Regions from separate parts of the Homo sapiens genome. Here region 2 is linked to region 1. The links come from fine-mapping of genetic effects on gene expression. A gene starts in region 1. The other region holds a variant in brackets. All regions are shown on one strand. Distances are between the middles of the regions. Region 1 holds the start of XYLB (xylulokinase). Region 2 overlaps XYLB (xylulokinase).

Region 1 (9,425 bases):
TCTTGAACTCCTGGACTCAAGCAATCCACCCGCTTCAGCCTCCCAAAGTGCTAGGATTACAGGCTTGAGCCACTGTGCCAGGCTCCTTCCAGTGTTTTTACATGGAAATATAGGAAGGTATGAATATTCTGATTTTCCTCCTTTCATACAAGAGAAAGCATACTATACTCACTGATCTGTACTTTGCTTTACTCACTTCACAGTAACGTGGCTGTGTTTACATGTCAATACATAAAAACTTCTGTGTTCTTTTTTATAGATGTGTAGTATTCCATTGTGTAGATGTACCATTTCCTAATGGAGGACAACCCGGGAGGCGGAACTTGCAGTGAGCCGAGATCGTGCCACTGCACTCCAGCCTGCGCGACAGAGCCAGACTCTGTCTCAAAAAAAGAAAGAAAAAAAGAAAAAAAAAGACTTTTCACTGTATACTTTTCATTGAGTTACATATTAAGTGCAATGTAATGCCTGTTAACAATATAAAATTTTTTTTCTTAAAATCACCACTTTGGAAGAGAATTCCTTAAGAAGTTAAACATATACCTGCCGTATAACTCAGCCACTGTACTCCTGGTATGTCATTTCCAAGAAAAATGAAATCATATGTCCACGAAAAGACTTGTATGTGACTCTCATAGCCCTTTGCTTATAACAACAGAAAAGAGAAACAACCCCAATATCCCTCATCAGGTGAAACCAATTGTAGTCCATCCATACAACATCATACAATGAAATACTACTCGGCAATAATAGGAACCAACTATTGCCACATGTAGCAACATGGATGAATCTCAAAACTGTGATGTAAAATTTTAAAGGTTTTAAAAAAGCATACATAATTATGATTCCATCTATACAAAATTCTAGAAAATACAAACTAGTGATAGAAAACACATCAGCGGTTGCCAGTGGGTAGGGGTATGGGGAAGGAGGCATCGCTTGCAAAGAGGCAGGAGGAAATTTTTAGGACATGGAAATACTCATTGTCTTATTTTGGTGATAGTTTCATGAAAGAATACAGATATTAAAGCTTTTAACTGTATACTCCAAATATGCACAGTATTGTACATCAGTTATACCTTAATAAAGTTGTAAAAAGAAAACCCACAATGCAATTGAGGTGATGGGGAAGGAATGAACTAAATCTATAGGCATCTGGTTTAAAATATCTTGAAAATATAATGGAAAAAAGCAATACCATATTTTGGTTATGGACACCTTTTTTTAAATGTCCAGTGGAGAGGACTGACTTATTAAGTGGAAGAGAGAGTGAGGGAGAGGAAATTTTAAAATTTTGAAAGACTAGAAGTCATATAGGGTATGTTCTCAGACCACAATGAAATTAAACTAGAAATCAATAACAGAAAACTGGAAAATCTGGAGATTAAACAACACACTTCCAGACTTCCTTTTTTTTTTTTTTTTTTTTTTTTTTTTGAGACAGGCTCTCCCTCTGTTGTCCAGGCTGGAGTGCAGTGGCGCGATCTTGGCTCACCGAAACCTCCCTCTCCACAGTTCAAGCAATTCTCCTGCCTCAGCCTCCCAGCTAGCTAGGATTACAGGCGTGCAGCATACACGGTGCCTGTCACCATGCCTGCCACCACGTCCAGCTAATTTTTTTGTATTTTTAGTAGAAACAGGGTTTCACCATGTTGGCCAGGCTGGTCTCAAACTCCGGACCTTAAGTGTTCTGCCTGCTTCAGCCTCCCAAAGTGCTGGGATTACAGGTGTGAGCCACTGTACCCAGCCTAAAAACATTCTTCTAAATAACCCATGAGTCAAAGAAGTCTCAAGAGAACTAAAAAATATTTTGAACGAAAAAAAATGAAACTATAACTTATCAAAATGTATGGGATGCTGCTAAGGCATCCCATAAAAAGCATTTGTGTTTACAGAGAAATTTATAGCATTAAATGCATATATTAGAAAAGAAGGTCTTAAATCAATCCTCTAAGTTTCCACTTGAGGAAACTAGGGAAAAAAGAGCAATTTAAACCTAAAGCAAGCAGAAGAAACTAAGTAATAAAAATTAGAGCACAACTTGAAGAAAACAACAGGGGAAAATCAACAAAACCAAAAGTTGAACTTTGAAAAGATCAATACAATTGATAAACCTCTAGCCAGGATAACCAAAGAAAAAAAGAGAGAAGACAAATTACCAATATCAGAAATGACCAACAGCAAGAGATCATCATTACTGGTCCCACAGATGTCATAAGGAGGATAAAGGAATATTATGAACAACACTATGGCCACACATTTGATGGCTTAGTTGAAAAGACCAATTCCTTGAAACATACCAACTACCCAAAGGCAAACATGCAAGGCCTGCAATAATAAAAAATGTGAGAAAGCAAGATGGCTTCTAACCTCGGCTCCATGGGGCCGCATTAGCTGGGGGCAAAGAGTTGGCAACACAATGTGATGGGTAATGAGAGGTGCACAAAGGGTCAGCTGGGAAGGCTTCAAAGAGGAAGTGTGTCTAAAACAGACAGGGAAGGACACTTTTACCAGGCCCTCACGAGGGTGCCTCAAAACCAGCAAGTCCACAGTGTTACGGACTGAATTGTGCCCCCTCTGCCCCTAAAACTCATATGCTGAAATCCTAACCCCGAGGGCCTTGGATTGTGATTATTTGGAGACAGGGCCTTTAAAAAGGCAATTAAGTTAAAATGAAGTCATTAGAATGGGCCTTAATCCAGTATGACTCATGTCCTTATAAGAAGATTAGGATACAGATGACAGAGACACCAAGCACTCCTGCACCGAGTGACCACCATGTGAAGACACAGCAAGAGAGTGGTCACCTGCAAGCCAAGGAGAGAGGTCCCAGAGGAGACCAATCTTCCCAGCACTTTGATTTTAGACTCCTAACGGCCAGATGTGTGAGAATATAAATTTCCGCTCTTTAACCCACCCAGTCTATGGTACCTTGTTATGGCAGCCCAAGCTGAACTCATGATCTTTCTCTCCAAAACTCATTCTTTCCCACAGTCCAACATCCACTCTGAAGGACAGCCAGAAATCCCACCCTTACATCTCACATTCAATTTTGTAACAGGACCTGTCCATTTTACTACTCAGCTCTCTCCTATCCATCATTTCATACCTGAATGACCAGCAAAAACCTCTTTAATAGTTCCCCACGTCCATTCCAGCAATGCTCCGAATCTGTTCTCCCAATGCCCCCAGAGAGATATTTTCAAAACAAAAATACAACCTGTCATTCATACCTCACCCATACCCCTACCCCTTATGGCCCTTAGTGGCTGACCATAGCTTTTAGAATAAAGACAAACTCTATACCATGGCCTATGGAGCTCTGACCAGCCTCCGCCTCTCTCTGCTCCCCAGCATCATTGGCTTTCTTCAATTGCATGAAGGAATGAACCATGCTCTTTCTTGCCACAGGGCCCTCGCACATGTTGTTCCTTCTGCCTGGAATGCTCTTCCATCACCTGGCCAACTTCCCTTCCATCGCTTGGCTAACTTCACTCACTCTGATCTCTAGCTTAAGCACCACTTCCCTAGAGACGCTCTGGGACTTCCCCTCCCAAGTCTGAGTCACATTCCTTTATAATAAGCACTTGGAGAAGTGAGTTCCTTTCCTTCAGAGGCCTTCTCAGAGTTTATAATGAAACACTCTTTTGTGAGATTCTTTGTTTGATACCAGTCTCCACTACTCAGTGGGAAGCTCTGGGAGAGCTTTCTCTTTTTGTTTCGCCATCAGGTCCTAGCACCTGGCACAAAGTAGGTCTCAACTGATGCTTACTTCATGAATGGATGAATGGAATTAGGAAGAAATGGGGGAGATGGCACTCTAGGTATAGGAAAAAAAGATGCTTGAAAGGTCTGCCGAGACCACCACTCCTGTATTTGGCAAAGCCTCAACAGTGCGGTCTGCGAATACAAAAGTTTGCGGGAGGACCCCAAAACCAACACCCCCATCACACACACATGCACATCAAGTACATACCCAAATTCTGGAAGATCTCTGTCAAAATGCACACTTTCCTCATAGAAGACATTCAACTCTGCATCAACAGCAACAACCTTTACCTGAAAGGCATTTTAAAAAAGGAAGTGTAGAATTTTCCTCAGCTTCTACACTGGTCCAGGGGGTACTAACGTCACCAGATGAGGCCCCACACCCTAGGAGCAGTTCAACCTAGAGACCTCCTTGAAGGCAGGGCTGCCTCACCGTAATCGTGGTAACAGAGGACTCATCTGGGGTAACACTCAAAGATTTAGTAAAATGAAGAAACTGAGGCTAAGTAGGAACACCCACATGTCTCAAGGAATCTTTGTTCCCCAAATAGCCAAAGCCAAGACCCTCTAGAGGAAGATGTTCACAGATGAGTTGGTTCGTGCACCTGACAAGGAGGCGGGAGAAAGTGCCAGAGAGGAAGGAATGGGAAGCAAGGTTTGGAGGCATCTCTGGGGATCCATGTCTGCAGAGGCCTGAGACCAGGCAAGGCCATGGGCTATTCTCACAGGCCATGATTGTGGTCCAGAGACATTAATGTCCCACTGAAGCAATCTCCAAGCTTGGGAGTATAACTCCTTTCCTGGACAGATGGGAAAACTGAGGTCCAGCAAGGCAACTCGAGTCATCCAGAGTCCCACAGGACGTTCCCCCAAGGACTGGCCAGAGGCCTGCCTCCCTTGACCCATTCGAGAAGAGGGGTTTGACTGCAACTGTGTATATTTCCCAAGTACTTTAAAGGAAAAGGTGCCCCCGGTCACCCCATGCCCTCTTTGAAGGCAAATTTTGATTTGCTTGCCTGTCTGCAGGGCGTTGGCAGCAGCACACTGCTCCTCTGGCCAGCAGTCCTGGGTGCACAGACCAGGCAAGCTGGTGTCAACGAAGGGCGGTCACAGGGTAAAGTCCACTTGTACACTATGCATTTCACTTTTTTCTTTTTTTTTTTTTGAGACAGGGTCCCGTTCTGTCGCCCAGGCTGGAGACCGGTGACGCCATCTTAGCTCACTGCAATCTCCACCTCCTGGGCTCAAGCGATCCGCTTCAGCCTCCAGAAAAACTGGGACTACAGGTGTGCTCCACCATGCCCGGCTAATTTTTGTATTTTCTGGTAGAGACCGGGGTTTCTCCATATTGCCCAGGCTGGTCTCGAACTCCTGGGCTCAAGCGATCCACTCGCCTCGGCCTCCCAAAGTGCTGGGATTACCGGCAAGAGCCACCAGGCCTGGGCCATTTCAATTTTTAAAAAAAGGTTTTGGGCTATAATCTGCTTCCAGGTCACTGGTTGTGCATGTGCGCAGGGCTACCCGCCTGTCTGTTCCCCTGCCTTACAGTAGCTGACTTCCTTCGGATCCCCGTCACTGGGTGCCCAGAACAGCGCAGGAACCCGCCGAGTCCTCCGGCCCCTCTGGGCACCGGGGGTCCTGCCGAGGAGCGCCTGCAGTTTCCTGGGGTAGCTGGGTCCAGGCGGGGTCGAGGCCGCATCTTGCGAGCGGGTGGCATTGGCAGGGCATCTCCGGGCGAGGGCACCGGCGCCCCACGGCCGCGCGCAGGGCAGGGGCGCGGGGGCCCCGGGAAGCCCGAGAGGTAGGCGCGCCCGCGGCCGGGCCCATGTTTTCCCGCGTCCGGGTGACAGCCCGCCCCCTACCCCCACCGAAGCGGAGGAGGCGGCCCCGTGGCCCTGCGGCCAGGCGACTGTACCTGCTGCGTGCTGAAGTCCCAGCCCAGGCAGCAGCGGCGAGGGGCGTGCTCCGCCATGGCCTTTCGGGTAAGGCTGCGCGTCCGTCAGTCCGTCCGTCCGCCACGCGGCGTGATAGTCGCCGCGCTCCAGCGCCCAGAGACGCAGGGGCCCGCCCCTAGCTCCGCCCGGCCGGACTGTGGACCGGAGTCACGAGGCGGGCTTGCGCTCTGGCGCCGCCTGCGGGGCTACGCGAGCCGGGACCGCGTCCTGTGCAATCGACGGTGCCCCCACGCAGCCCGCTTTCCTTCGAAGCGCACCCCCTCTGGTTCTCCCCATCTTCATCTTATGTCTTCATGGGCCGTGCCCTGACACCGCCTGGCTTCCCTTAGAGGACGCCTGGGCCAGAGGTTTCAGCTATAAGCCGGCTTGTCTTTCAGAGGGAGCCTGCCTGTCCTTCTGGAGGCCCTGGGCCTGCCGTCCTCTGTGGCTGTATCTTGGCACTGGAGCAGCTGTCCACCCATGGTGGTGACTCAGGGGCCACAGGGAAATGGGCCCTGGGGTTGGAAGCACTGAGTCCTGACAAGCCCTATCCAGATCCAGCAAATCTGAATGGTTCCCAGTGTGTCACATCCCACCTGTGTATTTAAACTCAGCGGCTCCTGATGCCCCCACGGGGAGACACTCCTTCCTGGAGTCAATTGGTATTGATGGTCTAATGTGTGCCAGGCATGGTAAAGGGGAATGAGAACCAGAGTCAGACCCACTCCTTTTATTCATGGAGCTGAGGGCGCCTGTCCCACCAGCTACATCCTTCCCGTCCCTAAGACTAACTGCTTTCCAGAATTCCTCCCCAAACCCAGCATGTGAGAGGCTCCTCCTACGAACTTCCCAGCCCACCAGTGCCCTTTTCATGCACTTGCAATGGTCTGTCTCCCTTGCTGAACTTGAGCTGCTTGGAGTCTACATGGGATCCTCTTCACTGCTAGAACAAGAAGGGGCCAACATACTTGTCCTCCAAGACATTCACAGCTTATTGGGGACTCAGCCCCTCCAGCAGTCACCACCTGTGACAATAGACAAATACTGGATACTAGCTAGATCAGAAACAATTATGCAACCTGCTGAGCACATTTAATCGTCACAATGATGCTGGGAAGTAGGTACTATTATCTCCACTTTTAAAAAATTTTAAATAAAGGTATCTAAGTATCTAATCTAATTAAGATTAGATTACTGCATTTTAATCTAATCTTAACTGCTTGATGACTTTTTTTTTTTTTTTTGACAGAGTTTCACTCCTGTCACCCAGGCTGGAGTGCAGTGGCGTGATCTCCGGTCACTGCAACCTCCACCTCCCTGGTTCAACTGATTCTTCTGCCTCAGCCTCCCATGTAGCTGGGATTACAGGCGCACACCACCGCACCCAGCTAATTTTTTTTTTTTTTTGAAACGGAGTTTCACTCTTGTTGCCCAGGCTGGAGTGCAATGGCGTGATTTCAGCTCATTGAAACCTCTGCCTTCTGGGTTCAAGTGATTCTCCTGCCTCAGCCTCCCGAGTAGCTGAGATTACAGGCATCCGCCACCACGCCCAGCTAATTTTGTATTTTTAGTAGAGACGAGGTTTCTCCATGTTTGTTAGGCTGGTCTTGAACTCCCGACCTCAGGTGTTCCGCCTGCCTCATCCTCTCAAAGTGCTGGGATTACAAGCGTGAGCCACTGCGTATGGCTCTAATTTTGTATTTTTAGTAGAGATGGGGTTTCACCATGTTGGTCAGGCTGGTCTCAAACTCCGACCTCATGTGATCCACCTGCCTCAGCCTCCCAAAGTGCTGGGATTACAGGCGTGAGTCACCGTGCCTGGCCAATGACTTTTTAAAAATGTATGTATATACCCATATAAACACTGAGATCAAAACAGAACATTTCCACCACTCCAGAAGTTTCCTTCATGACCCTTCCTAAACTCCCAAGGCAATCACTATTCTGATGTCTACCAGTATAAACTCACTTTGAACTTCGTATAACTTACCATCTTCATTTTACAGAGTGAGAAACTGAGGTGTAGAGAAGTTAGTTAACGTGGCCTAATGAAACTGCCATTGCAAAATTATAACTGAGACAGTGAAAGAGATCTGACTTAACCAATTCCATCTTGCTTCTAGCCTCCAAGCTGTCATTGCTTATTCATGGGCATAGGCAGAACTAACTTTGGGAGGAACTTACTTTATAGTTTAAAACAAAGATGATAACAGCTCTTTCCCAAAACAAATCTCCTTCTTGCCTGTGACTAGACTGCCTTTGTAGGACTAACAAATTAGCCACAAGATTAGAAATTAAGGTTTAGGAGTCATGCAGCTGGAGACTACAAGATTCTGACCATCACCAAATTGCTCCTGGGGATAACATCACTATTGTAAAACCTAAGATCAGTGCTTGAGATATTTTAGAGACCCTGCACTTGATGGATCAGCTGGTACCACCCAGCTCCATAAACTGGCTCATCTGATCTTGTGGCCCCCACCCAGGAACTGACTCAGCACAAGAAGATAGCTTCAAATTCCTATGAGTTCATTTCCGACCCAACCAATCAGCACTCCCAACTCACTGGCCTCCACCCACCCACCAAATTATTCTTAAAAACTCTGATTCCCAAATGCTCTGGGAGACTGATTTGAGTAATAATAAAACTCTGGTCTCCTACACAGCTGGCTCTGTGTGAATTACTCATTCTCTATTGCAGTCCCCCTGTCTTGATAAATTGGCTCTGTCTAGGCAGTGGGCAAGGTGAACCTGTCGGGTGGTTATACATCCTTTGCTCAGATCATTGGAACACTCCTTCTTTTGTACAGAATGAGGTGTTGTCCAATTCTAGAATCACAGATAAAATCCATTTAGGATCTTTAAATTTGTTGTAATTTTGTCTTTTGACAGCAGATGTCAGCTCCCAATAAGAGTGGGTTAGTTTGCACAGAAAGGGCTCAGAGTGGACAGATGAACCCACATAGGGAGCTGTGAAGGCTATCAAAGACACAGAAAGAGATCATGAGAGAGGTGTAATGGTGGAATTCACTAGACCGAGCTTGTCCAACCTGCAGCCCATGGGCTGCATGTGGCCCAGGATGGCTTTGAATGCAGCTCAACACAAATCAGTAAACTTTCTTAAAATATTATAAGATTTTGGGGTTTTCTAGATATACAATCATGTCGTCTGCAAACAGGGACAATTTGACTTCCTCTTTTCCTAATTGAATACCCTTCTCCTGCCTAATTGCCCTGGCCAGAACTTCCAACACTATGTTGAATAGGAGTGGTGAGAGAGGGCATCCCTGTCTTGTGCCAGTGTTCAAAGGGAATGCTTCCAGTTTTTGCCCATTCAGTATGATATTGGCTGTGGGTTTGTCATAGATAGCTCTTATTATTTTGAAATACGTCCCATCAATACCTAATTTATTGAGAGTTTTTAGCATGAAGGGTTGTTGAATTTTGTCAAAGGCCTTTTCTGCATCTATTGAGATAATCACGTGGTTTTTGTCTTTGGTTCTGTTTATATGCTGGATTACATTAATTGATTTGCATATATTGAACCAGCCTTGCATCCCAGGGATGAAGCCCACTTGATCATGGTGGATAAGCTTTTTGATGTGCTGCTGGATTCGGTTTGCCAGTATTGTCTCAGCCCAAAATCTCCTTAAGCTGATAAGCAACTTCAGCAAAGTCTCAGGATACAAAATCAATGTACAAAAATCACAAGCATTCTTATAC
Region 2 (9,425 bases), 38 kb before region 1:
ATTTTAGAATAAATAAATAAAAATAAATAGTAAAATAATAATAAACCTTAATCTAATAAAAGACATATAGTTCCACTTCCAGCTAAGATGATGATGGTCAAGAAAGAACACATTTGTGCTGTAACAATGACAGAATGGAATAAACAACAACAACCAGAGCATCATATTTTTGCTTGAAGCTATCAAAAAATTGTAAATTCAAGAAGTCTAAATAAAATAAATTCCAGAATGAGATGAGCCCTTAAGTGCTGATTCATACCTGCAGCATGGGAGACATGAAGAAGTAAGACTCTACAGGCAGATAAAATTTGCTAGAAAAGAAAAACAACTACATTTGGGCTGGTATGGAGGACTGAAATCTGGAAGAGTCTCCAATATAGAGCTAGTCCTCCCTACCCACCAAATGTCTCCAGTGAACTACTATGGAAGCAGTGATGTGGAAGTGGGGGAAGAGCTGGAAAACAGAGAAAGAGCTCTGTAATCTCAGTGGTTAGGTCCCAAAGACTTGATGGAGGGAGGGGCCTGATCCTGCTGATCCTGATCCCAAGACACTGCAACTACTGGTGAACTAAAACTAACTAGTACTGATCCAACCCCTGATTAAACAAAAAAAAACCCGGCCAGCCGCCCCGTCCGGGAGGGAGGTGGGGGGTCAGCCCCCGCCCGGCCAGCCGCCCCGTCTGGGAGGGAGGTGGGGGGTGCCTCTGCCCGGCCGCCCCTTCTGGGAAGTGAGGAGCCCCTCTGCCCGGCCACCACCCCATCTGGGAGGTGTACCCAACAGCTCATTGAGAACGGGCCATGATGACGATGGCGGTTTTGTGGAATAGAAAAGGGGGAAAGGTGGGGAAAAGATTGAGAAATCGGATGGTTGCTGTGTCTGTGTAGAAAGAAGTAGACATGGGAGACTTTTCATTTTGTTCTGTACTAAGAAAAATTCTTCTGCCTTGGGATCCTGTTGATCTATGACCTTACCCCCAACCCTGTGCTCTCTGAAACATGTGCTGTGTCCACTCAGGGTTAAATGGATTAAGGGCGGTGCAAGATGTGCTTTGTTAAACAGATGCTTGAAGGCAGCATGCTCGTTAAGAGTCATCACCACTCCCTAATCTCAAGTACCCAGGGACACAAACACTGCGGAAGGCCGCAGGGTCCTCTGCCTAGGAAAACCAGAGACCTTTGTTCACTTGTTTATCTGCTGACCTTCCCTCCACTATTGTCCTATGACCCTGCCAAATCCCCCTCTGCGAGAAACACCCAAGAATGATCAATAAAAAAAAAAAAGAAAGAAAATTATCAAATCTTTATTATTTTAATTCTTTAGTAAAATAAAGGAAGTATGCCTTAATAGGCCTAAACTGTGGGTGTTCTCATTAAAGAGGTACACTGTAGAGTCCCAAAATAGTCCTCTTTAGAAATATTTTAACATTTTAAGCCCTAATTAAAAGAATAAAGTACATATTTCAAGAACAAACTAGTTCTGAGTCAAAAAATAAACCTCCCTGACAAAATATATAGATCATGTTGTGGATATAACATAACAATTGCTAAAAATACATTTTTTAGATTCCTGTTAAGCCCAGTGATAAAAGTTACTATACAAAAAATTAGAAAAGACAAAATGAAGAAAGTAAAAACCAACCCTAGTTACACCAGAGTTACACTGTTAGTATGCTGTTATATAGGCTTCTAGACTTTTTTTTACTTATTTTGTTACTTATTTAAATTGACAATAAAAATTGCACATATTTATCCTATACAACATGTTTTGAAATATGTATATATTGTGGAATGACTAAATTGAGCTAATTAACTTATGCATTACTTCACATACTTATCTTTTGTGGTGAGAACACCTAAAATCTCTTGGCAATTTTGACGAATACAATACACTGTTATAAACTATCATCACCATGTTGTACAATAAATCTCTTGAATATGTTCCTGTACCCTAACCAAAATTTTTAATCCACTGACCGACATCTCCGCAACCCAGCTTTTTTACTATATACATTTTTAAAAATAAAAATTAAATGATAAAAGTAAAAAAAAAAAAAAAAAAAAAACAAAAAAAAACCACCACCTCACCCGCACTTCCTGATAGAAGGGCAAGCCTTTTCTGCAGGTAAACATTAGCTATTTATTTAACAACTGCATGTGAATCTACAATTATCTCAAAAGTAAAAGGTTTAAAAATTAGCCACTTTAGTCAACACCGTACTTTTAAACACAACGTACAGCATTCAAACAAAATTAAATAGCATTTTAAGAAGCAGGAAATGGCAGTAAAATAGTAAATAAAAGCAGACTCTGAGATGAATTAGCAGATAGGAGCTTTATAATAATTATAAAGATGATATAAAGTCAGAGGAAGAGATGGACAAAATGGTTAAAATATGAAAAATTTCAGCAGAGACATAAGAAAGTATAAGAGAATGAAATGGAAATTCTAGAAATAGAAAAAATATAATATCCAAAATGAATTTGTTAGATGGACTTAATAGCAGACTGTCTACAGCAGAAACATGAATAAAAAGAGGTGTGATAGAAATTGTCCATCTGAAGTCCGGGCACAGTGACTCATGCCTGTAATCCCAGCACTTTGGGAGGCTGAGGCAGGCGGATCACCTGAGGTCAGGAGTTCAAGACCAGCCTGCCTAACATGGTGAAACCCCATCTCTACTAAAAATACAAAAAATTAGCCAGATGTGGTGGCGCTTGCCTGTAGTCCCAGCAACTCAGGAGGCTGAGGCAGGAGAAGCGCTTGAGCCCAGCAGGTGGAGGTTGGAGTGAGCCGAGATCATGCCACTGCACTCCAGCCTGGGCAACAGAGCAAGACTCTGTCTCAAAAAAACAAAACATAACAAAACAAAACAAAAAATGAACTTGTCCAACTGAAGCAGGGAGAGAGAGAAAAAAAAAAAAGAATAGAAAATCAAAGTCCTATGGGACAACAGCAGATGTGTAACTGAAGTCCAGAGGAAAGGAAAGAGGGAATAGGGAAAAATAAATATTTGAAGAAATAATGGCTAAGAATTTTCCAAAATTGATGGAAGACATTAACCCACAGATCCAAGAAGCTCAGTGAATCACAAAGGGGATACATACAAAATAATAATTAAAAAACCCTTACTTAGGTATATCATAATCAAACTGCTGAAAATCAAAGATTAATAGAAAAATCTTAAATCAGCCAGAGAAGAAAACCCCATTACATTCAGGAGAATAACATTAAGAATGACAGTTAATTTCTTATCTGAAACATTAGAAGTCAAGAAAACAATGAAATGACATTTTCAGAGTGCTGAAAGTAAAAAGTGCCAACCTAGAATTCCACAGCAGAAAACATTATTTTAATATGAAGTAAAATAAATACATTTTCAGACAAAGTAAAACTTAAGAGAATCCACTTTTTATAGATGTTCTACATTCCTTCCTGAAGCTCTGACTTTCCATCTGGTATGATTTTCCCTTTAGCCCGGAAGACATCCTTTAGTCATTCTTGTAGTGCAAGCATGTTCGTAAAAAATTCAAGTGTATAATATTAGTGCAAACCAGACTTTTCAAATTAAGGATTTCAATTTAAAAATCAATTAAAAAGTGTATACCTTAAAAAGCCAACAGAGGAGATAAAATGGAATACTAGACATTGCTCAGTTAATCCAAAAATAAGACAGGAAAAGAATAAGAAAGAAAAAAGAACATATAGAACAAAAGAAAAGAAAAAGAAAAATTGATATGTAATCCATTTTGTAAATGGATGGATTAAAAAAATAAAAAATAAATGGATAGATTCAATTAAATCCAATCATTTCAATAATTACATTAAATGTAAATGGACCCTTCCCTTTAAAAATATTTATTGCCTGTCTACCTTCCTACCTTTCTTTTTTCTTCTTCCTTCTCTAAAAAGCCATTAAATAGGCAAACAGAAGTGGCTCAAGGGCCACATGTAAGTACATAACCAGAGTGGGGCAGATTCAAGAGGCTGCTGGAGAGACGACACAGAGACAACACAGGTAAGGGTAAGCAGAGAAGCCAAAATGGGGCTTGCATGTCAAGGAGGCAGCAATCTGGAGGGGTCAGAAGAATCAACTTTGTCACTGTTAGGATAAGATACAAATATGGGAAGGAAGAAAGCCAGAATGAACCCCATGGTGTTGGACTGGAAGTAGAGTGTATAGGGTTGAACTCATGTTTTTCAACACATGGAGAAGTAGACAGACAGACAAATAGAAAGGTAACGTGTGTATTGATACAGACATATATATATTTGGATATGTATATATATATCCTAATATTTCCCAGCTCAGCCCACTGAAAGGGGTTGTTATATATCCTTACATATTCCCAGCTCAGCCCACTGAAAGGGGCTGGGAACAGCATCATCCCAGTAGCAATGAGCATCCAGAGAGAGCATCCAAACATCTCTCCCACTCAGAGAAGTCAGGGCCCCTTGGATAAATGGAAGATTACAAGGCTGATCCAAGGAAAAAACAAGATGAGCCTGAAACTTTTTTTATACTAGAAGCTATGGAAATGCTCAAGGAATGATGGAAGATATGTCAAAAGGACGAGGGGCCAGTTTGAAGGACCACTCACTGATGCAGAAAAAGATGAAAATTACTATCTTTTTAGAAATGAAAGATATGTTATGTAAATAAAGTTAACATGTAGCATTCTGAAATGCATAAATTAGAAGTTAATACAGGATAGGAATAAATGAGCTAAAATTTCAACTTAAAAATACAGAAAAAGAAAAAATTCATAAAGTAGAAGGAAAGCATTTAAAAAGATAAAATTAGAAATTAATAAAAGGGAGCACAAAACAAAATATTAACATTGCTTAATAAAATATACCAACCTTTAGCTAACATGCTCAAGGGAAAAAAAATACACAAACAAGAATGAACTAGGGACAAGGGTATAGGGCATAGAATGAGATGGTGAAAGTGGAGGTTACAATCCCAGCACTTTGGAGGCCAAGATGAGTGGATCACGTGAGGTCAAGAGTTTGAGACCAGCCTAGGCAACATGGCGAAACCCCGTCTCTACAAAAATACAAAAATTAGCCAGGTGGTATGGCGCGCACCTGTAATCCCAGCTACTCAGGTGGCTGAGGTGCAAGAATCGCTTGAACCCGGGAGGCGAAGGTTGCAGTGAGCTGAGATTGTACCACTGCACTCCAGCCTGGGTGACAGAGTGAGACTCTGTCTCAAAACAAGAACAAAAACAAAAACAAAACAAAACAAGAAATAATCTTAATGTCCTTCAACTAGGGCTATAAAATAATTTATCAGACCTCATGCCAGTCATTAGAAAACAAAAAGGTAGACCTGTACATACTGTTATGGAAAGCAAGTCTCAGAATAACACATAGAATGTAATAGCATTTCTGTTAAATATATACACACACACACGTGTCAGGTCGAACCATATGAAATTGCCATTTTTGTAAATCAAAACTTCTTCAATATTGGCAATTCCGTATGATTCAATCTAACACAGAAACTCACAGGAAGGAAGTCACAGTCTGGAAAG[AAGGAAAGG/G]AGTCTGGGAGGCAAATGAAGGGGGCATTTGCTTCTTATTCCATATTTCTGTTTTGCATGAATCTTTTGTGATAAAAAGACATCCATTCGTTATGTATTTTAAAACAAATAGTTGTTTTTAAGACCTGCTGCTTTCCATCCAGCCCCTTGGCTCTGTCCAGAAGAAGACATTCAGCCCCCACCTCTCAGCTTCTCCCATCTTCATCGCTGGCCGTGAAGACAGTGTCTGGGAAGAGAGAAGGACTGCCATCCTCCTGGGGAAATAATTCAAGCTATGGAAGATGCTCTAGTGTGATTCCACGTTGGAAAACCAAGAACAATGGCCAGGCACGGTGGCTCACACTTGCAATCCCAGCACTTTGGGAGGCCGAGGCAGGTGGATCATTTGAGGTCAGAAGTTCGAGACCAGCTTGGCCAACACGGTGAAACCCCGTCTCTACTAAAAATACAAAACTAGCTGGGCGTGGTGGTGTGCACCTGTAGTCCCAGTTACTTAGGAGACTGAGGCAGGAGGATCACTTGAACCCGGGAGGCGGAGGTTGTAGTGAGCCAAGATCACACCACTGCACTCCAGTCTGGGCAACAGGAGTGAAACCCTGTCTCCAGAAAAACAAAACAAAACAAAACAAAGAAAACAAACAAACAAAAAAAACAAGAACACCCTCAGTGCCCAAATGCAGGAAAAGTAACCTGGCCATCATACGCAGCACCACAAAGATGACTTCTGACAAACTTTGGTTCTTGTATACACCCTTTGCATATAAGGTACAAAGGAACAAAACTATGGCTGTATGGAAATAAGCTCATAAAGGAGACTGGGAGAAAATGTCCCTAAATGATACCAGTGGTTGGAGAGAGGGGATGGGATTATGAGTCATTTTCCTTTATTTTTTTGAGACATGGTCTCGCTCTGTCGCCCAGGCTAGAGTGAAGTGGTGCAATCACAGCTCATTGCAGCCTTGACCTCCCAGGCTCCAGCGATCCCCCCGGCCTCCTGCCACCCCTGCCACCCCACCCCCAGTAGCTGGGACCACAAGCACATGCCACTATACTGGGATATTTATAATTATTATTATTTGTGAAGATATGGTCTCTCTGTTGCCAGTCTCAAACTCCTGGGCTCAAGTGATCCTCCCGCCTCCACCTCCCAAAGTGCTGGGATTACAGGTGTGAGCACCAGGCCCATTTTCTTTATTTTTCAAACTTGTTATTACAAGATTTGACTGTTTTTACAATCAACCTAAACAACATGAAACACACTGAAATATAAACTGAAAACTATGGCTTATTAGCCCTGCCCAGCTGGTTTCTATCATGTCTGATGGTGTCTATAAACATCAAGAGGGCGATTGTTCCTTAAAAAAAGCAGGTTCAGCCAGTGGTTGAGAATCCAGCATCTGGAGCCAGACTGGCTTGGTTCAGATCCCAGCTCTGCCAGCCCTGACCAAGTTATTTAACCACTGCAAGATTTGGTTTCCTCGGTTGTGAAGTGGGAATCATATCAGTACCTACTTCAGCGGTACTGTTGTTAATAAAGATTAATTGCTAAGGAACTGGGCCGGGCACACACTCAGTGCCCAACAAATGCTGGCAGCTGTTAGTATCACAATAATCATTTTTATTCAAAGTGCCTCTTTATTGCCCTTAGACACTATTAAAGCCAAATGAGATGATGTCTGGGCAAGAACGAAAGAGCTGGCCAGTCCACACAGCAGCCTGGAGAATGAGTCCTCACGTGCGTGCAACCTCTGTTGGTTCCAAGTATGTCTATTTAAGTGATCACTCAGCAGAGCGGCAAGACAGGTCTGATTCTGCATTTAAGCTTGCTAAGAGGATAAGTAACTCTATGCTGTTTTGCACAAGAAATGCCTTAGAGGCTGGGAATAATGCCACAATCCCATCAGCTCCTCCTGAGCCCATGGGGGCCTTTTGCCCTAACTGCTTCTCCCTGTATGCTGGGCTGTTCCGTTCCCTGGGGTTCTCTTCTGACAGCCGGAGGACCCCTGCCAGGCACTCCACCAACTCCAGCACCAACCCTGCCCTGCTCACCCAGTCTCATTTTCAGGGAACTTGGAAGTCTTTGCAGACCTTTAGGAAACGTCTTTTTACACTTAGGGTGGTGGGATGAGGGCAATCAGAATGCTCATGGTGGTCATTTTACACATGTTAAAATCTTGTATTGACCTAGAACACACATCCTGAAAAATGCACACATCATAAGCCTATAATGTTCATAAATTTTTAAAAACTAAACACACCCATGGAACATGAAACAGAACATTGACAGCACCCCACAGGCCCCTTCTGAAAGGTAACTACTAATTATCCCGACTTCCAACAATAGTAAATAGTTTCATCTGCTTTTTTTATTTTTTTTGAGACAGGGTCTCATGGCTCACTGCAGCCTCAACCTCCTAGGCTTAAGCGATCCTCCCACCTCAGTCTCCTGAGTAGCTGGGACTACAGGCATGTGCCACCACGCCTGGCTAATTTTCGTATTTTTTGTAGAGAAGGGGTTTCACCATTATCGGGGAACCTGCCCCGATAATCACGTAGGTTCTTTTCCATTTTTCCTAAGCATCGGCTGGCTTGAGAAACAAAGGGACAGAGTACAAAAGAGAGAAATTTTAAAGCTGGGTGTCTGGGGGAGACATCCCACGTTGGTAGGATCCGTGATGCCCCACAAGCCACAAAAACCAGCAAGTTTTTATTAGGGATTTTCAAAAGGGGAGGGAGTGTGCGAATAGGTGTGGGTGACAGACATCAAGTACTTAACAGGATAATAGAATATCACAAGGCAAGTGGAGGCAGGGTGAGATCACAGGACCACAGGACCGAGGTGAAATTAAAATTGCTAATGAAGTTTCGGGCACCATTGTCATTGGTAACATCTTATCAGGAGACAGGGTTTTGGGATCAACCAGTCTGACCAAAATTTATTAGGTGGGAATTTCCTCTTCCTAATAAGCCTGGGAGCACTATGGGAGACTGGAGTTTATTTCATCTCTGCAGCCTCAACCATAAGAGACAGGCTACGCCCAGGGGGGCCAGTTCAGAGACCTACCCGCAGGCGCACATTCTCTTTTTCAGGGATGTTCCATGCTGAGAAAAAGAATTCAGCGATATTTTTCCCATTTGCTTTTGAAGGAAGAGAAACATGGTTCTGTTCTGCCCAGCTCACCAGCAGTCAGAGTTTAAGGTTATCTCTCTTATTCCCTGAACAATTGCTGTTATCCTGTTCTTTTTTCAAGGTGCCCACACTTCACATTGCTCAAACACACATGCTGTACAATTTGTGCAGTTAATGCAATTATTACAGGGTCCTGAGGCGATATATCCTCCTCAGCTGACAGGATCAAGAGATTAAAGTAAAGACAGGCATAGGAAATCACAAGGGTATTGATTGGGGAAGTGATAAGTGTCCATGAAATCTTTACAATTTATGTTTAGAGATTGCAGTAAAGACAGGTGTAAGAAATTATAAAAGTATTAATTTGGGGAACTAATAAATGTCCATGAAATCTTCACAATCCACATTCTTCTGCCATGGCTTCAGCCAGTCCCTCCGTTTGGGGTCCCTGACTTCCCGCAACACACCATGTTGCCCAGTCTGGTCTCGAACTCCTGGACTCAAGCAATCCACCTGCCTCGGCCTCCCAAAATGTGGAGATTACAGGTGTGAGCCACTGTGCCTGGCCTGTAGTGCCATCTGCTTTTGAATTTGATGTACAGAGACCCCTGCCATATGTATGTCCATGTTTGGCCTCTTTTGCTCAGTGTTACATTTGGTGAGATTCACCCATTTCATTGTGGATCACTGAGGCTGGTTCATTTTCATTTGTGTGTAGTATCCTGTTGTACAAATGCACCACAATGCAT

What was found. PIP is the estimated chance that this variant, and not a neighbour inherited with it, causes the effect.
Region 2: its variant is the best candidate, but not a certain one, in a credible set for the expression of XYLB in nasal epithelium (TOPMed, PIP 0.55).

The regions. Positions count from the first base shown.
Region 1 is chr3:38,343,184-38,352,608 of GRCh38, reverse strand. It overlaps XYLB (xylulokinase), which reads right to left and starts at 5,824. Exons shown (of 19, transcript NM_005108.4): 1 at 5,684-5,824; 2 at 3,977-4,059. The coding sequence starts at 5,740. RefSeq lists enhancers at 4,384-5,215, 5,216-6,047 and silencers at 5,348-5,407, 5,418-5,657.
Region 2 is chr3:38,380,808-38,390,232 of GRCh38, reverse strand. All of the region lies in intron 15 of XYLB (xylulokinase), which reads right to left. Among named protein-coding and RNA genes, the nearest start is that of XYLB, 39 kb to the right of the region's middle. The variant AAGGAAAGG/G (reference allele first, on the strand shown) is at 5,539.